Homo sapiens: one gene and its partner. Changing the gene in region 1 together with any one later gene gives a genetic interaction. Each region holds a gene or a part of one and is shown in the gene's direction. Other genes may lie near its edges. The genes, in order: RAX and PAX6.

Region 1 (13,266 bases):
CTGGCACATGCTACAACATGGATAAACCTGAAGACATTATGCTAAATGAAAGAAGCCAGTCACAAAAGAACAAATACTCTATGATTTGACTCACATGAGATACTTACAGTAGTCAAATTCCTAGAGACAGAAAGATGGTTGCTGGGGGCTGGGGACCGGGAGTGGTGAGGAGTTTTGATTAATGGATACAAAATTTTAGTTCAGGAAGATTAAAACGTTCTGGAGATGGATGGAGGTGATGATTGCACAACAATATGAAGGTATTTAATGCCACAGAACCATATACTCAAAAATGATTGAAATGGCACATTTTTAGTTGTGTGTATTTAACCACACATTTTTTAAAAAGGAAGTAGGAGACACAGTCCTGGCCTTTGAATTGTTTCTGCTTGTGAGTAGCTCGTGCTTTGTCAGGAGTTAGCTGCATTCTGGGTTTTTTTTTTTTTCACTCTCCAAATTAAAACATAAAATGGAATATGTTAAACTCCTATTTTAAGAAGCAGGCAGCTTCCATTTGGGGGAATGAGAATGTGTATGTTGACTTTGAATTAGAAGAGAAGGAGAGTAACCCAACACATATTTATAGATCTGAACCAGAGTTGTGCTATAATTATTTATCTGAATACAAAGGAGGCTGGGTGTGGTGGCTCACACCTGTAATCCTAGCACTTTGGGAGGCCGAGGCAGGCAGATCACCTGAGGTCAGGAGTTGGAAACCAGCCTGGCCAAAAAGGTGAAACACCGTCTCTGCCAAAAATACAAAAAAATTAGCCAGACGTGGTGGCACATGTCTGTAGTCCCAGCTAATCGGGAGGCTGAGGCAGGAGGACCACTTGAGCCCTATAGAGATGAATGGTGGTTTGCACCAGATTGGAGATGGAGAAAAGCCATCAGAATCTGTTTATATGTTGAAGCTACAGCCAACAGGATTGCCTGACAAATTGGGTGATAGAAAGAGAAATGGCTTAGAATTTGAGACACGTGAGTGAAACAGCCATTTACAGATATGAGGAAGATGGTGGTAGAACAGGTGCAGGAGGGAAGTCCTATTCAGAAACTCTGTTTCTAACATGTACTCAATACGCAAGCAAATGGAGATGCCTAACAGGCAGTCAATAAACTACAGGAGTCAGAAAGAGTTCCAGAGTAGAGTCAAGGAGAGCATCAAGAAAGTGAGTCTAAATAGGGAGCAGGACCTAGGGCTGGGCTGGGCATTCCAGCTTTCAGAGGTCAAGGACAAGAGGAGGAATCCAGGGAGGATACTGCCGAGGAGCAACCAGTGAGCTAGAAAGAAAACCAGAGGTTGTAGAGAACTGGAAGCCAAATGATTTTCAGTAGAACACTGCCTTGCTGTGAAAAAGACTAGAGCCAGCCAAACCCCTGGTGGGGGTTGGGTCAAGGCTGCTGCAAAATGGGCATCCTTGGATTTGCCTTCTTAGCACTCTAAGAGGATTGATAGGCTTCAAGACCATCATCCCCTCAAGATAAATGTCTTTAGTGCTTCCCCCTAGACACTCTGAATTCAATTAGTTTAATTAGAAAACAAGTAAAGAGGAATTATCTTAATATAGCTTTGCTCCTAACAACTCAAAAAAGTCCATTTATTTGGCAGAAATCCAAGTTCCCTCTTTTGTTTATATATTCTGAGATAATGATGTAAATTTTCATTTCTGAGTAAAAAGGTAGACGTCTCTCACCCCGTCAATCATGGTTTTGTTTTAGTTTTAATAATAAATAATAACAATAATAAACACTTCCTGATTTCCTCATTTTTAATGAGGTAGGAGCAGTAATATGCTAGTAATGTTTAAATATCATTTAGTTTTTAAGTTGAGAGGGGGACTGTCTGATTTTTAGTGTTTGTCAATTGCTGTGGTGAAATTACTACCACTGTGGCTGATTTCAAGCTACTAAGATGAATCACTGAACTCAGAACTGGGAAGATGCTAACCATAAGTTCTTACAAGCCAGTAGGGGCTGATTCCAGCACACCAATGCGTAGCAATATTAGCTGTTTGCCAAAAATCCCTGCAAATCTATTGCCAAGGGAATTTTTCCTCTTACCGAGAGGCTACTTGAACTTGCATCAGTTGTAAAAGCAAGCTCAGAACCAAGATAATTGGGTTGGTAAGTGACGGGGGAGTTGTGTGAAGAGTAACTTCATTGTGTTTGTACAACAAATATATTCCTCCACAATTCATGCACTGACTTTCTCTAACTATAAGCGTGGGGCATCTGAGTGTAACAGCCTGAGAGCTCAGCATGGCGGTGCTAATGCCAGAGTGCCCAGTGGACACCCTGGGAGTCTGGGACCCGGCCTCCAGTCCAAGCCCTAGTACAAACATTCTGTCTCACCTTGGGCTAACTGCTTAATTTCTCTGGGCCCACACATTTTTCACATCTAAAATGTTAAAATGGGGGCTAGAAATAAGAGAACAGAACAGATAATCATCAAAGTTCGTTTTCTAAATCTTCAATATACGATCCCCTGAAATAACAGGACACTAAGTGGGAGGGCAGTTTTAAGTGATGCTGTTTCCAAAAATATCATAATTGGGAAACAATGGAAATTCCCAAGGAGGAGACTTCTTGCTAATTGCTGGATGGTCTGCAGAGAGCTGTGGTCCCTATTTTTAAGTGAAAGGAAGGCTTTCAAACAGGGTATTACTGCTGGGAAACAACAGCTCTCAACTGCCCTTCATTTCGTCTTGTGACGAGATGAAATGCTTGCTTCCATATGCCCATCTGCGAGGGCTCTCAATTAAACCCATAATGTCTACATGAGGCCCATCTCTTTGTTGGTTTATGGTCTTTCAGCCACGATTATCTGATGGGGTTATTATTCACTACACTATCCTTATATCAACATTTGCTTCAATCTAGTCTGAAAATACTAGAGAACATCCAGATTGTCATAGTAAGAGGTAAACTACTATACTGGAAATGTCTTTATCATATGTGTCAAGGTCATATATTTATGAAAGTGGCCAAGGATATTCATTGTTAGTTGCCCGCATGTAAAAATGGGGTTCTGGTAGGCACCTCTAAGAACATTTTTCTGATATACCTTGTGGGTTGCTTCAAGTAGCTAATGTTTCATAAATGAGGGAGATCTGGTAGTGAGAGATGAACAAGCATAGTGTATTTTATCTCTGGATGCAATGTCAGTATTTAAAAGAGCTTAGCTAGTGATATTTTTGCAACCATTGCCAGCAACTCGCCCATGATATGCAATATATAATACAATATAGGGGAGAATTCACAGCATCAAAGGCCAATGCTGAAAAATATCTTTTAGATGCTTAAATATATATTGTTCACAAACCACTGAGAGTGATTTGAAACTCAGAACAGAGAAAACTCCCTAAGCTTCATGAGATAGCCTTGGAAAGTTGAATGGCATACTTATTATTATTTTTTTTTAGCAAACCTGTAACCATCTTAAATGACTTAATAAATTATAGGCCATCCACCATACCTTTCTCATCCCCACATCACTCTGAACTATATTATTCTTGTTACCTTTGACTCCCAAATTTTCTTGCTTTAATTTATCTGCTGGTTCTCTTATGGCCACTGGAGAATTAATGGTGCATGTTAATACACATACCGTGTTGGGGGTAGCACACATGGTGGGCAGAAGGAAGCATTCCTGAGTAAAACACCTAGGTTCAGATCCTGGCTCTACTTGAAACCAGCTGTGTGACCTTGGACATGCTACAGAACCTCTCTGTATTTCAGTTTCCTCATCTGTAAAGTAGGGATAATAATAGTGTCTACTGGCCAGGTGCGGTGGCTCAAGCCTGTAATCCCAGCATTTTTGGAGGTTAAGGCAGGAACATTGCTTGAGCCCAGGAGTTAAAGACCAGCCTGGGCAACATGGCGAAAACCCATCTCTACAAAAAAATACAAAAATTAGCTGGATGTGATGGCCTGCACCTGTAGTCCCAGCTTTGCAGGAAGCTGAGGTGGGAGGATACTTGAGCCCAAGAGGTTGAGGCTGCAGTGAGCTGTGATCATGTTACTGCACTCCAGCCTGGGCAACAGAGCCAGACTCTGTCTCTAATAATAATAATAATAGCAGCATCTACATCATAGGATTATCGTAAGAACTAAATTGGGCAATTCATGTAAAATAATACTCAAAAGCTTATGGCATATACCCACTGACATGTACTTAGCATTCAATAAATAGTAGCTCTTGTATGTATTCTTAACTCTTGACAACTGAATTTGTTGAACTTCAGTGTGTGTGTATGGTGTGTGTGCGTGTTTAGTGATTATATGAGTTGTGTTTTGCTCTGGCTAAAACTAAAAGTAAGTTGCCTTTCTTGCACGTGTATCAGCTAGTGGGAGGAGGAGGTCCTCGAATATGGCGTGACACAGGGGGAGTTATTCCAGGATTAAAATACATCTGCTATGGGGAAAATCTACATGCAGACAATCAAGTTTATTTGATACACTTTACGAATTGATATATCATAGGCCTTTCCACAGACATTTTCACCCTAATGTAAAACATCGCTGAGAGGTGAAATGACTAGAGACTGTGGCTGAATGTCCTTAATTCACCGCTCTCCCTCTCCTTCTCCGTCCAGTGCACAGGGATATGCATGTCTCCCCCGTGTTGTAGGTGAGACTGTTCATCCAGAATACTTCCAGAAATTGGACCTTCTCCATACAGCCACGATCAAGGAGTCGCTTTATACTACAACTTCCTCACGTTTGGAAATGTGTGTCTCCCAACCATCCGAAGTTTAATGGGGCTTTAGCTGTGTCTAAGGTTGGCCGCAGGTGGGGGATGGAAGGAGGGGTTTTCTTTGATCCATCTAATGAATTAATGAATTAATCAGAGGTGGGGTTCAGAAGCCAGGCTCCTTACTGTTGCTGAAGCAGGGCTGATTATGAGCTAGCCTAACTGCTGGAAAAATGCAGCTTCATGCTAGAAGAATTAGGGACATGGCCCAGTCCATTCATCTTCCCTAATCGAGTTCTTGGGAAATACACACGTAGATTAGCCCCTAACAATGACCCCCGGCTGATTGCTTGGAGTACCCTCCACCGTGCCCACAATGGTACTGACTAGCTCTTTATGTCCTGCACAAAGGAAGCCCCAACTCCCCCTTGTCCTCCTCTGCCCTGTCTCCCCCACCCCCATCACCACCACCCCTGCCCTCGCCAGTGGCTGTTGAAGTCTTTTCTGCTTTTTTCCCCAGACTCTGAAACAAACAGTAAATAAAAGCTAACCTCACCTGGACTTATTAGGAGGAGCTGGGCAGTTCCAGAGGAATTAACTTTGGAAAACAAGGCCATAAACCCCTTAGCAGCGTGTGGGCAGGAGCTTAAGGAAACGCTGCCAATCTTTGTTTAGCGGTGATTATCGAGATCAATTTAATATTGGGGAAGTTTGCATAAAAAGCATTCTCGGTCAGAGGGGGAACAACAAATACCAATTAATTATCCCCACAGCTGCCCTCTGATCACCACCACCTCAGCACGTCAGCCACCTGGTCTATGTCACTGGCAGTCAGACCTTTTCGGGTGCCACCAGGCCATTTGTGGGCCCTGGAAAGGTGGAGGAGGGGCGGAGGAGGAGGCAAAACCTGGTCTGTCAGGGGACTTTCCAGAGGGTTTGTTAATTTGCCCTGGATGCCGGTACCCAAAGCCCACTCTCTATAGGCTCTGACTTTATTTCTTCTGGGAGCTAAACTGCTTCTACCTCCGCCTCTTAGATGCAGAATCCAGTCTCAGGGAAGGATTAAAGACAGACTGCAGGCTAAGATGGGCTTTGATTCTTTTCAAAAAGATCACACACTACAATAATAATTACAAATGAGCTGCAGGCAGAAAACACTGGACAAGGAGTCAGTGGCCTGAGTTCTAGTCCTGACCCTTCCACTTAATAGCTGTATCACTTTGAGCCTCAGTTTCCTCTTCTGTAAAATGGGGACCAATATGTCTGTCCTGCTCACCTCACAAGGTTGTGAAGATCAGATGACATGAAGAATGTGAGAAGATTCTGAAACCTACAAAGTGACATGTCGAGAGAATTGCTTGAGCCCAGGAGTTCCAGGCTGCAGTGAGCCACCATCATGCCACTGCACTCCAGCCTGGGCAACAGAGAGGGACCCTGTCTCTAAAATAAACAGACAAATAAATAATAAGTAAATAAAGTAATATGTGAACACTGTAAAGTGCTATTAACTTTCATTAATTTTAGCTTTTTTCTTAAAAGATAATTTCTGACTTGAATTAGTTCAATTTCTATCTCCTGCAGTCACATGCTTGCCCTTATTTTAGTTTGCCATTATATAGTTTTATTAAAAGTAGATATGCCCATCATGGGGAATTAACCATTGAATGATCCTTAAGAAATTGACTTGTCCTCCGCAAACATCCTTCTAACACCAATTTAAAGGTTGGGGATCTGAGGATGTGTGTTTTCCCTCTTCCTTTGTCTTGTCTTCCAGACTGGACGTTAAACTCCACCAGGCCAACGGCCCTGGCCTTTCCCAATTTGTTTGATGCCCACGACGTGGCCCTCGACGGTTGCCTTGCCCTCTAAAGGGACGCAGCAAACGCTTGTCTGAACGCAAGCGGGATAAAGAAGACACCCCTGCTGTGGAGATCAGAGCGCCTACTGAAAAGGAGATTTTAGGGATATTGTCCTCTAGGTCCTTGAGCTTTTATAGGAAAGCATTTTAATTCACGGTTCAGGCCACCAGTTCAGGGAAGGCCAAGCGCTCGCCTCGGGTCTCGCCTCAGATTTGAGGGGTGAGACGTTCACAGCGCCATTGTCCATCCGCGCTGCTGGAGGTGAAACACACTCACCCTATCCAATCATCTTTCCAAGTGGCCGATCAGTCACTGTGGGCCACGGAAGCCTCGAGGGGGTCCAAAGGAGAAAGAACTGCAAGCCAATTACTCCTGAACCCTCGGGGAGGCGAGAGGCCTCTTCCCCGGGAGAAGGTCCTTCCCCAGCCAGCTCTGGGCCATCTCCTTGGCCCGGAGTGTTGGAGGGAGGCGGGAGTGCGACACCGCTGCTCATCAGTAAAGGAGCCCGCCCTCCCCGCAGGACAAGGGGCGGGAGCGAGGAACTCCAGGTGGGTCTCCTGCGGGACCTGAGCCCGGCAGCACATCCGACTCGGGGCTCCCAGTCTCCTGCTGGGCGATCGGGCGCTAGAGGTCACCGGACTTGCGGACATAAATGGCCCTGGGGTGGGCGCTGCGGGGAAGGAGGGAGGCTGCCGGCGCTCAAGTCCGAGGGGACTGGGAGGAGTTACAACAGATATAGACGGACAAACTAAACGCGAGGTCCGGGACTTCGTACAACCCAGCCAAGAAAGGAGTGGGTCCCGAAAAGGGAGCCAGCGAGGGGAAATTCAAACTGCGACGAGTGCGGGGCTGGGAAGCCTTCGGCTGGGTCTCGGCGCTTCCAGGGGGCACAGGCCAGGGTGGCGGCCCCGCGGAGGTGAGCCAGAGGGGGCTAGAGGGGCGAGTCTGAAGCTGGGGAGGGGTGCGTCCAAGGAGGGAGGTGACCCCCAGGGGGTAGTCTGAAGTGAGAGGGTAAGCCCGAAGTAGAGGGAGACAAACGCAAGGGGAGAGATGAGCCCAAGGGCGTCGGCCCCACTGAGGCAGGACTAGGGGTGCGCCGCGACCAGGTTCCCGAGCCCATCAGGCATCCCGCCGCGGATCCCCGGAGTGTGTTTGTAAAGCTTAAAACGGATCAAGAGGTGGAAGGGGAATATTCCTAGTGCCGGCCCAGGGGTGGCCACTAGAGGACCCTGTGGCTGGGCCGGGTGAGGACACGCCCCTCTGTGGAGGGAGGGGCCGAGAGAAGGGGCTGGGTCCAGGGCGAGAGGGGAGGAGCCGAGGGCCAGTTGGCTCCCCGCCTTTAGCGCCGAGAGCCCCAGCTACCCCGAGCCCGAACTTCCGACTTCTGGGACTAAGGCGGCAGCGGGCTGAGCGCTCGGCCACCCCCAGCGTGCGCAGCCCGGGCGGGCTTCGCCCGCGGAGCTTGACCTAGGGTCGGGACCCGTCGGGTTGCACCGCCGCACTCGGGAAGACCCGGCTTCGAGCCTCTCCTCTCCGTCTCCAAAGCGCCCTCCCGCCTCCCGGCGCTCCCCATGCACCTGCCGGGCTGCGCGCCAGCCATGGCCGACGGGAGCTTCTCGCTTGCCGGCCACCTGCTCCGCAGCCCGGGCGGGAGCACCTCGCGACTTCACAGCATCGAGGCCATCCTGGGGTTTACCAAGGACGACGGGATCCTCGGCACCTTCCCGGCGGAGCGGGGCGCCCGGGGCGCGAAGGAGCGGGATAGGAGGCTGGGCGCGCGGCCCGCCTGCCCCAAGGCGCCCGAGGAAGGCTCCGAGCCCTCCCCGCCGCCAGCCCCGGCGCCCGCCCCCGAGTACGAAGGTGAGTGCGCACCCCTGGCTGTGCGAGGCCGTTCGGGCGCCCGAGCTTAGGAGTTGGCCAGACGAGAGCGCCCCTTCCTTAACTTTTATTAAGGCAACTGGGCGCGGGGTTGGGGACCGTCTATGGCGGGAGCTTCCAATTTGCATTCAGAGAAAGCTTAGGACCCATCGCCGCCCTCACCACGGACCTCCCCGGGCCATCTCGGAGCCCGCAGGCGGGCTGGCCAGTGCCCACAGCGAGGCGGGGTCGGCCCAAGGGTGTTTTGGGGAGTGCATCTGACCCTCCCGGGCCTCGTCGCCCCAGCCCCTCGACCCTACTGCCCCAAGGAGCCCGGGGAGGCACGGCCGAGCCCAGGGCTGCCCGTCGGGCCAGCCACCGGCGAAGCGAAACTGTCAGAGGAGGAACAGCCCAAGAAAAAGCATCGGCGGAACCGCACGACTTTCACCACGTACCAGCTGCATGAGCTGGAGCGCGCGTTCGAGAAGTCCCACTACCCGGACGTGTACAGCCGCGAGGAGCTGGCCGGCAAGGTCAACCTACCAGAGGTCCGGGTCCAGGTAAAGCGCCCAGGTTGAGGAACTGGGATCTGGGAGGGCCCGAGGCCCAAATTGCAGCCAATGCTTCTCGGAATTCACGGGTGTCCATGCATTTATTACTGTCCTTCCTCGACTTGGCATGCCCAGAGTCTCAAGGGAGAGGCACAGATCTTCGATGTTCCCTGTGCATCGCCCTTCAAGCAGTCTGTTCCAGTTTGTAGTACGAGCTCCCCTTTGGGGGTTTCCCTCTTCTAAACTCAAAATAGAAGATGGGAATGACTTGCAAGATGAAGAGGCCGACAGCTCATTAGACATAGCCAGGAAGGGGTTGGGGGTTGCTGAGTGGAAATGGAATGCAGGTAGTGATCGAGGGTGACAGGATTGGGGCCCCAAATGCCACCCTCGTCACTAGCTGCGAATACCGAGTTGGAAACGAAAACCCTGTTTCCTTGCGAAGGGCCTGGCACCTCGCAGTTGAAACTTCGGGTGGATTTATTTAAGAAACTGACTTTTCCTTTTCTGGTGCACATCCAACCAAACTTCTCGCTGCAAAGGCCTTTTCTTTTTATTGTAAAGGGGTTTTCGCTTTAATTAAAGCTGAATTATCTTTAATCCCTGATCATTAAAATATTTGAAAGCCTTAAATATTTGCTAGTCATCTGTGAAAAATCTGGGAGGATTTCCAAATTGGGAGAGTTTACAGAGGGCTGAAAGAGAGACATTGGGAACAAATTTCACTGCATCTGAAAGGCAGTGGAACTAAGATGGGATTTTTGTGTGTGTCTAATAAATTAGATTTCCAGGAAATGAGAACACTCAAGTGTTCGGAGCTTTTATCCATGTCTTAAAAGTAAAAGAGGACAAGCTGCTGCTTTTTCTTTTCTGCTTAGTTTAAGAGTTGAAAGTAATGAGTAAAAGTCATGGCTTAAAAAATATAATTCCCTAATGTGACTTGGGATTAACCAGCAAGGACAGTTCAATGTCTCCTAATTTGGGGCAGTAAAGCTGCAGTGATTTCACTGAAGGGGTGGAAATTTTATCACCTGCTTTCAAAAAAAGAAGGATGGGAGAGGGAATGAATACAAGAGAAAGAGTAGAGGCAAAGCCTTCCAGTACCCTACAGAATCCAAGCAAAGCAGACTCAGCTCCCTGGGCACTTGAGCCCACCTGCATCCTCCCTCATTACTTGTTCAGGAGTTTTGGCTTCTCCTCTAAGTTGTGAGATTCTTGAGAACAGTGTCTGTGACTTCTTTGTGACCACAGGGCCAGCACAGCACCCAGCATATGGCCATTCTTAACACATGACTATGATGTAATCAGATGGTAGAGATACTAGGCAGGATCTCCCACACCGAGGGCAGCAGTAGAGCATTGCAATAACCGACCTCAATCCTTCAGTCTATAACCTGGGACACTAGATCTGAAGGCTACAGCTGATGTGGTAGGGAATTGAGTGGGACAGACAGGGAAGCCGAGAAGGTGGTGGGACAGGAGCCCTCACCCAAATCAGTGTTTCTTTTCTCTACTGTTGGCAAGTATCTAATATTTAAGGGAGACTTGAGGCCTTAGATATGCAGATGAATCTTTTCTAGGATGGTACAGGGTACTTACACTTTTGTTGTTTCTCTTTTTCTCCCTAATTGCAGCCTCTCACACACTTGCCCTGCGGTGCTTGGGTGCTGGATTGCTGTTCTTTCAGCTCTCCTCGGGGGTCCCCTGCCCTTATTGACTGAAAACTACTTTCTCCCTTCTGAGGTTGCAACAATCTCCCCATTTCCCTTCATAAATATAGCACTAAAGCCACCAGTTTGGCTGAAATTCTTTTGTGTTCTCTACTAAACGGATTCTCTGTCTTGCCTGTGAAGGTGGAACTGGTAGTAAAAATGTAATTACACATATTCCAGCACTTTTATCAAATCAGTAATGAAGTTTCATTGGAAGAACCCGACGTTACTCTTGGCAAGGACTTCGTACAGATAAAGAAGAAGAAGCAAAAAACCTTGTCATTGAGCTAAGGTCTTAGGGTAATGTCAAAATTAACTTTGTAATGTAAAAGTAGATATAATAGACTGGAATGATTGTACTCCTTGAAAGTAATAACAAACAGCAGAAATAGTAAGCAGACATTAATTAAATAAAAATAAAAATATTAAAGCAGCAATTCAAATATGGTTGGGGCAAAATAAACCCCACTTGCTCCTATCTAGTTATCATAACCAGTAATCCGTGAAAAGAGCTGAATTTTAACGCCCATTCTTGCCAATTACTCTACTTAACAATATTTATTTATACCTGTATTTAGAGACAAAGGGTAGGTAAAGCAGAGAAAGTCTGAGACCAAAATACAGCAACTTAGATCTGTACCATACAGAGAACAAGCAAGTCTAAACTGTTAGGAGGGGCTGCCAACCAGAAGGTCACAGAAAATTGGTGAGATCTCGTTTCAAAGTTCTACGATTCGATTGCGGAGTTAAATTCACTTTTTTTTTCTGAGCTTCTGCTACGCACTAGGAGTTGGAAACAGATACAACCACAGCTATGGATAAACAGAGAAAAGGGTGGGACGCCACGGAGGACTAGGATGGGACAAAGAGACTCAGAAGAGGCGATAATGGAGAGAAGAGGCCAAAAAAAAAAAAAAAAGAGAGAGAGAGAGAGAGAGAAAGGGGATGGAAAAGAAAAGAGAACGCGGGGTGGGAGGAGTAGGAGTGGGTGGAAGGAAGGAAGATCCGGGCCTCTCTCGGCACATGCATAACAGTTGCGCCCCTAGTTTTATTTGAGGGGGACGGAGTGGAGCCCGCCGAGCTGAACCGGCTCAGGGTTGGGGACGCGGCCGCAGCCTCCGCTGCTGCCCGACGGCCCCTGTGCTCTCTCCTGCAGGTGTGGTTCCAGAACCGACGGGCTAAGTGGCGGCGGCAGGAGAAGCTGGAAGTGTCCTCCATGAAGCTGCAGGACTCGCCCCTCCTCTCCTTCAGCCGCTCCCCGCCCTCCGCGACGCTGTCGCCCCTCGGGGCGGGCCCGGGCAGCGGTGGCGGGCCGGCTGGGGGCGCGCTGCCGCTGGAGTCCTGGCTCGGGCCGCCGCTGCCGGGCGGGGGCGCCACGGCGCTGCAGAGCCTGCCGGGCTTCGGGCCGCCGGCGCAGAGCCTGCCTGCCAGCTACACGCCACCGCCGCCGCCTCCGCCCTTCCTGAACTCCCCGCCGTTGGGCCCCGGCCTGCAACCTCTCGCGCCGCCGCCGCCCTCCTACCCGTGCGGGCCCGGCTTCGGGGACAAGTTCCCGCTGGACGAGGCGGACCCGCGCAACAGCAGCATCGCGGCGCTGCGTCTGAAAGCCAAGGAGCACATCCAGGCCATCGGGAAGCCGTGGCAGGCCCTCTAGGGGCACTGGGGAACGTCTTGGGATCCGACCCCGGGCCGACCGCACCGTACCCGCATCCTCTCTCCCAGGGACAACCCCCCTCCCCAGCTCGGCCCCTCTTTCCCTGTCGCCTGCAGCCACCCGCCAAGCATAGTTCAGGGCCACGCGCCTGCTCCCGATGCACGGGGAGAAGGGCGACTTTCAGGCCTGAGGAGAGGCCCTCTGGCCGCCTCAACGCACTTCGCGGACCTCAGCCCTGCAGCTGGAGGGCAACAGGCTGCCGGGCCCCGCTGGCCACGCCGCTCCCATCACCGCAGGCGCTGGAGCCTCCAGGCCCAAACAGGCTGAAGCTCCTAAACTTGGCCATTCCCAGGAGGCTTGGAGACCCCCAGATAACCATAACAGGGAAGCAGGGGAGGCGGAAAAATAGAGTTTGAGAAACTTTTGTATAAGTAGTTTCAAACTATTTGAGAGGAGAATTAAAGACATGCTTGTTTTGTTTCGACTCTGTTTAAGCACGCTCAGGACTTGGGGAGAGGAGTGAATATTGGGGTACGGGAGGAGGGTGCGTTGACGGACAGGGTGGGTCAGGGAAAGAGGAGGACTGAGAAGAAGCTCAGGGTTTCCTTGTGAAAATTCTAGGGACACTTCGCTGCAGCAGAGAATCGTCCCCATTCCGAACGCTTCGGCGGCCTAGACCAGAGGCGCCCTTCCCTGGAGCCGGCGTGCGCGCTTGGGGTCCGGAGTGGATGGGGCTAAGGCTCAGATGCTAGCGCGCTCCCAGTTCCCCCGCTAGCCCCATAGTCCAGCGGCAGCTGATATTTTCAAGTTTGACTTCAATAGAAAGCGTCAAGACCACCTTCCCTAGGGCGAGAGCGAAGTGTCCCCCGGCCCCTGGCGTCCCCGCTCTCCTAAGGACTCCTCTCAGTTCACCAAGCAGATCTCCGGTTCGGTGCCA
Region 2 (7,014 bases), on another chromosome or scaffold:
TGCAAAACAGAGGGCGGAGGCACCAGGGAAAGGCACTTGAATGAAGAAGGAAAATGAGAACCAGATTGTAACTTCGTCCTAATCCACCTGCCAGAACTTTCCTTCAGGTGTCACACATCCATTTCCATCCTAATATTAAACAATATAATGAAAGAAAGCTTTACAACAAGTCTAAATAGTTTTTATTTTCGGGCAGTCTTTTAACAAAGCAAAGCAACCGTGTGAGTTAGGTCACCAGAGACACCAAGCAATGGTGAAGGACCCCCTCCGCCCAATTCTCTATCCAACTAAATTTCCATGCCCAAAGTGATAGCTATCATTTTTTCCACGGTGTATCTGCAAATCCACCCACTGTCCCGGGGTGGCTGGGAGCTTTTTAACGGGTTGAGAGTTGCTTTTTAAGGTTGTGGGTGAGCTGAGATGGGTGACTGTGTCTTCAGGAGACACTACCATTTGGTTTGATTTTGGTTTGATTTGCAGGTGTCATCAATAAACAGAGTTCTTCGCAACCTGGCTAGCGAAAAGCAACAGATGGGCGCAGACGGCATGTATGATAAACTAAGGATGTTGAACGGGCAGACCGGAAGCTGGGGCACCCGCCCTGGTTGGTATCCGGGGACTTCGGTGCCAGGGCAACCTACGCAAGGTAAAACCCAAGCAGCCATCCACGCAGCTCTCCATATGTGCATCCCTTTGCCTGTCCCCTACTCTCCCAACCATTTCCTCTCAGGGCTTCCATGCTTGGGGAATGTCATGGGTGAGACTGCATTTGAAGGCCTGGGACACATCGACCACATTGTATGTAGGTGGTGTTTGTTGAACCATTTTGTTGGCCTGGGAATGTGAGGGTTGTGTATGTCAGGAGCGGTATGAAGGTGGCTGGTGGGTGCGTGTGTGTGTTTGTGGGCAGCACTGTGTGCATAAGAACGAGCTGCGTGGTGCACTATTCAAATTTGACATTAGAATGCAGGGAGAGCCCCCTTGTAGAAGTGTGACAAGATAACGCACTGACAGACTGCGAGGTTAACATAATTGTATCCTGTTGCTTTTTGCTGTAATTGACAAATTATGTGACTATGAGTAGGGTGCACATGAAAAGGTGAGCAGGGAGATGCAGGGCGAGTCGGGGATGGGGCATTGGAAGTGGTGGTCTCCCAACTAAAACCACCCCACTATCCTTGCCCCTCCCCCGTTCGCCCCTCTGGGTCCCACTTTCTCACTCTCTGTGGGTGGCGACTATGTGGAAGTGGTGAGGTGAAGATACTGTGAGCAGGACGGCGGGATGCCGGGAGCCGCTCTGGTCTGGGAGGAGAGATGGGACCTGAAACACCCCAGGTTCTGTGAGAAGGGCTGGAGGAAGAAGAGCGGGGGATGGGGGGGGTGGGGCGGAGGGGAGGGTCAGTTGGCTCCCCTCCGCTCCCCTCCACACCCCGAGGTAGCTTGGTCAAGAATAGGAAACAGTTTACTCCGAAGATTAATCGGTATTTGTTGTCCTCGTGACAAGGAGATAATATGCGGGATAATGGGACGTGGCGTCTCACTCCCAGGAGCACAACGGAGCCGAGGGGCTCGGGGCCAGGGGCGGCGCGCGGGACTGCGAGGAGGCTGCCGGCGCATCCGTGAGCTCTCGGACCGGCTCCGGATGCCCGGCGCCTCCATGGAGTCGGGCGAGGGAAGGGAAAATCGGTAACAGTATGCGAAATATCTGGTACAAAGGATGCTTCTGTCACTCGCAAGAATTTGTTATGGGAACAATCCTGTCGCTCTGTAATTGCTCATTAGAGAACGTTTTGTTTCTCATTAAGGCGACATGAATAAGCGTCTAGTTGAAGGAGACAGCTGTAGAAATGTTCCACAAGAGACCTCTGGACACGATTCGGCACCAATTGCCAATTAGACATGTCAGTTTTAAGAGCAGAAAACAATATAGGACGGACACTGGGAAGATAGGGAGCAAAGCGCTCGCTTCTTGTTTCCCAGCGCGGCCGCTCGGCCGGCGGAGGCCTCCTGACGCGCGGGGCCCGGGCTCCCCTGGGCGACCCCGCCCGCACGGGCCCCGAACCCGCCGCCTCCGCGAGCTCAGAGGGCCCCCAGGCCCGCTCCCGCCTCTGGTGAGACTAGCGATTGACCCCACCGAGTGTAGGCAACCCCATCCCTGCCTGACTTTTGAAACCGTAGGATTCCCACTTGTAGACACTGGACACACCCAAGTGACACCCGAACTTCGCACTCACGAGCGTCCACCCCTCCGCCCCCAGCAATCTGAGGTCCTGGTGATCCCTCCCCTGACAAGAGTCTGGCCCACTTAGTCCGAGAAGTCTTGGGGAGGGACTCAGGGCACGGTGGCCTAGGCCTGGGAGGGCTGAGCCCAGAGCCTCCACTCCGGGCTCTCCCCGGTGCGTGGGCTCCCATGAGCTTGGGGCGCAGGATACACCCCCCTTCCGCTTCTTGGAGTTGGGCAGAAGCCGAGGACAGCAGCTTCCACCAGAGGTGGCGCCCGATTCGGGCGGATTTTCGTCGCCGGCAGTCTGAGGGCGGGAAGTGAGAGTCAAATCAGCTAGGGTCCGCCTGTGATGGTTGGGGCCGGAGGTGGAGCTAGTCCAGGGGCTTTTCACTTTAACGCGCCTAGTTGCTAGAAAATTCTGGGTCAACTGGCAATCACCACCCCCCCACCCGCAAGTGAGGTTTTTGGGGGGTGATTGTCACCTCAGGCACAGGACCGTCGCCCCTAGTTGCGTGGGGAGGACACGTGGGCCAAACGAAGCACAGAGTTGCCGGCGTGGGGGTAGCGGGCACCGGTGGTGAGCTTCGCTTCACGTTCCCGGGGAATCCTCAGACTTTTTGGTGCTAAGAGGGTCCCCCTCCCTCCCTAGCCCCCTTTCCCAGCCCAGGAAGCCTTTCTTGGGTTTTAAAGAGTCCATACTCCAAAAGCATAAGGCGGGGGTTAGGTCTCAGAGGGAGACAAATATGGTTTCCATCTGATCAACGCCATGCGGCGGTGAATAAAATCGCGACGACGTGGGCTGACAACAACAAGAGACAACTCTATCCAGCCCCAATTCTCCGGCGATTTGGTGGTTTTAGGGATCACGGAGACACTTTTTCTTATCTCCTCCCCTCACCCCACCCCCACCCCCCATAATACCCAAGCCCTCTATAGGATTTAGTCAGCCTCTCTTTCAACAGATGCTACAATGTTTTGATCCGCGCTCCAGAGCTGAAAAGGTGCCGCAACCGGGTTGCTATCTTTTCTTGCTTGTTTTCCGCCTCACTGATTAAGACACTAAGAAACTAAGGAATGATTTTATTTCCCAGCAACTCTCTCTCTGTCTCTCTCTCTCTCTCTCTCTCTCACCTCCTTCCAGGAAACAAATCCTATTCCCATCGTCAGATGGTCCTGGGGCTGGGATAATGGGAGGCGCTTTCACTCGCTTTCTCACGGATTAGGCTGGAAGGTGAACGGCACCCACTGAAGGCCCCTGCTTTGCGCGGCTCCGAGGGGGCGCCTTTTGAAGAAGATATCTTAATTGTCCACCACTTAGGTTTATCGTGGGGGTGGGGGAGTCGAGATCCAACTTCTAGTTTTATTTTGTTAAAAGCTTTAAGAGTGGAAGGCAAATCCACTAAAGTGGGGGGAAATGTACCCATTTTATGTAAGAGCAGCCGCTAGGTCACCGCCTGGCTGCAAACAGTTGCCACTTCTAAAGTAATGAACTGTCTCCGTGCCGCTCTCCCCGCGGGGTAGAGAAGGGATCCTGCAGCGACAGGTTTCTTTTTGCTGTGGAATTCCAATCCCCGCTTCCCATCTTTTTTTTTTTTTTTTTTTTTTCCAGATTTAAAATTGAGCTCTACTGTCCCTGCTGACTTTTCTCTCTTAAGTGTCAGTTCTGGAGGCAGCACAGGGCCTGGCGGCGATCGCGTGCTGCCTGTGTAAACCCGTGTGTATGTTTGTGTGAGACAGAACATGGATAAGAATGTGAATCTCCATGTTTTAAAATTAAGAAAATGTCAAAGAGGCAAATGAGAGCAGAGCATGCTATCGGCGGGGTTCTTCGGAGGCAGATTCGGGCAACTTTGTTTAATTGGCGAGATCGAATGTGCCAGAAAAGGGACCGAGATGGGGCCCCTAGGAAGGCATGGGCATGAGTGGCCATGGGGAGATGGGCATTGTGTTCTCCTCAGTGTCCCCCACCCCATACCAGATGTGCACAGATTTTTGTCTGTTTTCCAAAAGCAATAACCCTCCGGCCTTTCTAGTTGGCCAAAAGGAGCTATTTCCAGTCTTCCTTCTTCACCAAACCCGAAAATAAAGCGAGGGGTGGGGGTGGTCGCTTCATTTCTTCCCTTGAAAAACGCTTTGAAAAGTCCCCGGAAACTTGGGGCAGTAAATTAGCACAGACGCTTGTGCCCGCACACGTGAGCGGAGCGCGTCTCCCTCAGCTAAGTAGCCCTCCTCGACCCCCACCTTTCTGATGGAGTGCAAAGACCCAGAGTCCAGATGGGGCTCAGTTACTAATATTCTCTGGCCCTCATCCTCCTTTTCCTCTCTCTCCCACTCTTGTTCGGCCCTCGTGTCTCTTTTTCCTCTCAGCATTCTTTTCTGTCCTTTTTTAAAAATACCTTTCTAGCCTCTATGTTTTTTGAGCCTTCTTTTCCCCTCCATCGCCCTCTTTTTCCCTCCATCGCCCTCTGTCTTTCCCCTAACCCAGGCCCCCCAATCCTTCCCCCTTGCTTCCACCCCCACCGCTGGTTTCCATCCTGCCTCCCCTCCATCTCCTCTATGTAGGAACCCAGCCCTGGTCCCCGTCCACTCTCCCTGCCTCCCCCCATGCTGGGCCCTGGCCCCCCCATCCACCCTCCATCCCCCCAGCCAAGCGCCCTAAATAGCACGGAGGCGCCCGCTCTTCGGACAGTGATTAATGATAGCAGAGCAGAGGGGTTAACACACTTCACTGAAAAGTCTGTTGACTGGGCTTCTTGTAACACAATGTGGCCCGCTGCACGCCTCAAGAGAATCCTTTTGTTGTCCGCGCTCATTGTAGCCTCAAAATTCTGCCCACGAAAGTTTGCCAACGCTCCTGCCCCAGGAGTTTAATAGTTTCCCTTACTCGCGGGGCATTGTGCAGCGCTGAAAAGCAGCCCCTCGCTATTCAAGTGTTGGTGGTCATCTCAATAGATCTCCAAGGGCCCATATGGTGGCCAGTGCCGATGAATCCGCCTGTTTAAATGGGGGAGAAAGTTGGGGTTTTAAAACATTTCAAAGTTCCTGAAAAGATCCCACTAGATCCTGTCACAATTCCCTGAACTCTTTGAAGGCGCAGCCTATTGTCTCCTGGTTATAAATAATATTCCTGGCCAAGTCGATTCCCACCAAGGCGCTCCTAGGGGCCCCTCCACCCCGCCTCTGGCCAAGTTTTGAGGATAGGGAGGTGGGTAGCCCATGCTGGTATCCCTTGGGGGTCATTTCAGGACCCCAGACCCAGGACCCAGCCTGTAGTGGCCCTGGAGGCCCAGTCAGAGTTTAGGCAATCCTGCTTCCCTTCACTGTGGCCTTACAGGCAAGGTGCAAGCCGGGAGCCAGCTAGCCCAAGTGCACATCTTGCCCTCCAGGCAGCAAGGGAAAACCATAAAACTTTCCCCCTGTATAATGATAGAAGTTACATTCAAAGTGGTGGAAATGCCCTAATTAAAAATGTACCACTTAAATGATATGCCAAAGATTCAGCTGCAGCATAGAATATTTAGCTAGTTAGTGAACTCTCTACTATTTCTTTTTTAAAATTACACGTTAAAAATTTAAAAGAAATCTTACTTTTCTCTGGTGCAACACATTACAAAGAATGGACAGTCCTTTTATCTAAATATAAAATTCCATTTTCAGCAATTATAGCCTGTTCTTGGTGATGATATAATTACAGCTGTGCTCGTAATAGGTGTCAAGGCGAAGCGCACTCATACAATAGTTGAATAAAACTGCAGAACAATGCGAGCACTTCTAAATTCACAACCTTTAAATGAAATTGACTGTGCAGAATTCAAATAAAAACTAGATAAATATTTTTTAAAAAAGATTACAAGCTTGGTTTGGTTTCTTAATAGCATTTTCTACAAACCTATCAACATCTAATTGATTAGATAGGAATTACTGATTATAGATCAACTGAAATCTTGAACATCACTCTTCTATTTTCCCAACACAGCCATAGGTAAAGAGATTCTGTAGGGAGTGGAGTGAGGCATTTGGGGAGTTGGGGTTACTTATAAAAGATCATTTTAATTGGAAACTTCAGTGCTTATTTTTTCATTCAAGAAATGCCACTTAGTGTGTGTATTATAAAGTCTCATCTTGATAAAAACAAAGAAAATGGTGGTCAGGTAACTAACATCGCAAATGTATTTTTTTAAAAGAAGGCTGACAGTTACCTTGGGAATGTTTTGGTGAGGCTGTCGGGATATAATGCTCTTGGAGTTTAAGACTACACCAGGCCCCTTTTGGAGGCTCCAAGTTAATCCAAATTTCTCTTACCATCCTATTCTTTTTGTTCCAGATGGCTGCCAGCAACAGGAAGGAGGGGGAGAGAATACCAACTCCATCAGTTCCAACGGAGAAGATTCAGATGAGGCTCAAATGCGACTTCAGCTGAAGCGGAAGCTGCAAAGAAATAGAACATCCTTTACCCAAGAGCAAATTGAGGCCCTGGAGAAAGGTGATAGAGTTTTTCAAAGTAGAGAAGCAGTAAATCAAAGTAAATGCCACATCTTCAGTACAAAGAGCTAAATTTAGCCAGGGCCCTTTGCATAGAAGAATGAAAAGATTTCCTTTTTTCTGTCTTTTTATTTCTCTGGGCATCTTTTCAGTGTGTGTGTGTGTGTGTGTGTGTGTGTGTGTGTGTGTGTGTGTGTGTGTGTGTGTGTGGTGTGTGTGTGTGTGTTTCTTCTTTTCATCTACCAGTAATTCAAAGACTAAATGTCTGACTTATAAGGAAAAATGATGATTTGGCTATTTCAGGCCAC

The links.
Region 2: of RAX (region 1) and PAX6, changing one enhances a phenotype caused by changing the other (phenotypic enhancement), as found in Homo sapiens cells (one study listed by BioGRID).

The regions. Positions count from the first base shown.
Region 1 is NC_000018.10:59,268,067-59,281,332, reverse strand, and holds the start of RAX (retinal homeobox protein Rx), read left to right. Parts: upstream 1-7,878; 5' UTR 7,879-8,126; coding exon 8,127-8,415; intron 8,416-8,718; coding exon 8,719-8,972; intron 8,973-11,831; coding exon 11,832-12,329; 3' UTR 12,330-13,266. UniProt on the Homo sapiens protein: Plays a critical role in eye formation by regulating the initial specification of retinal cells and/or their subsequent proliferation. Binds to the photoreceptor conserved element-I (PCE-1/Ret 1) in the photoreceptor cell-specific arrestin promoter.
Region 2 is NC_000011.10:31,794,323-31,801,336, reverse strand, and holds part of PAX6 (paired box protein Pax-6), read left to right. Parts: exon of another isoform or gene 1-107; intron 108-480; coding exon 481-646; intron 647-675; exon of another isoform or gene 676-798; intron 799-6,548; coding exon 6,549-6,707; intron 6,708-7,014. UniProt on the Homo sapiens protein: Transcription factor with important functions in the development of the eye, nose, central nervous system and pancreas. Required for the differentiation of pancreatic islet alpha cells.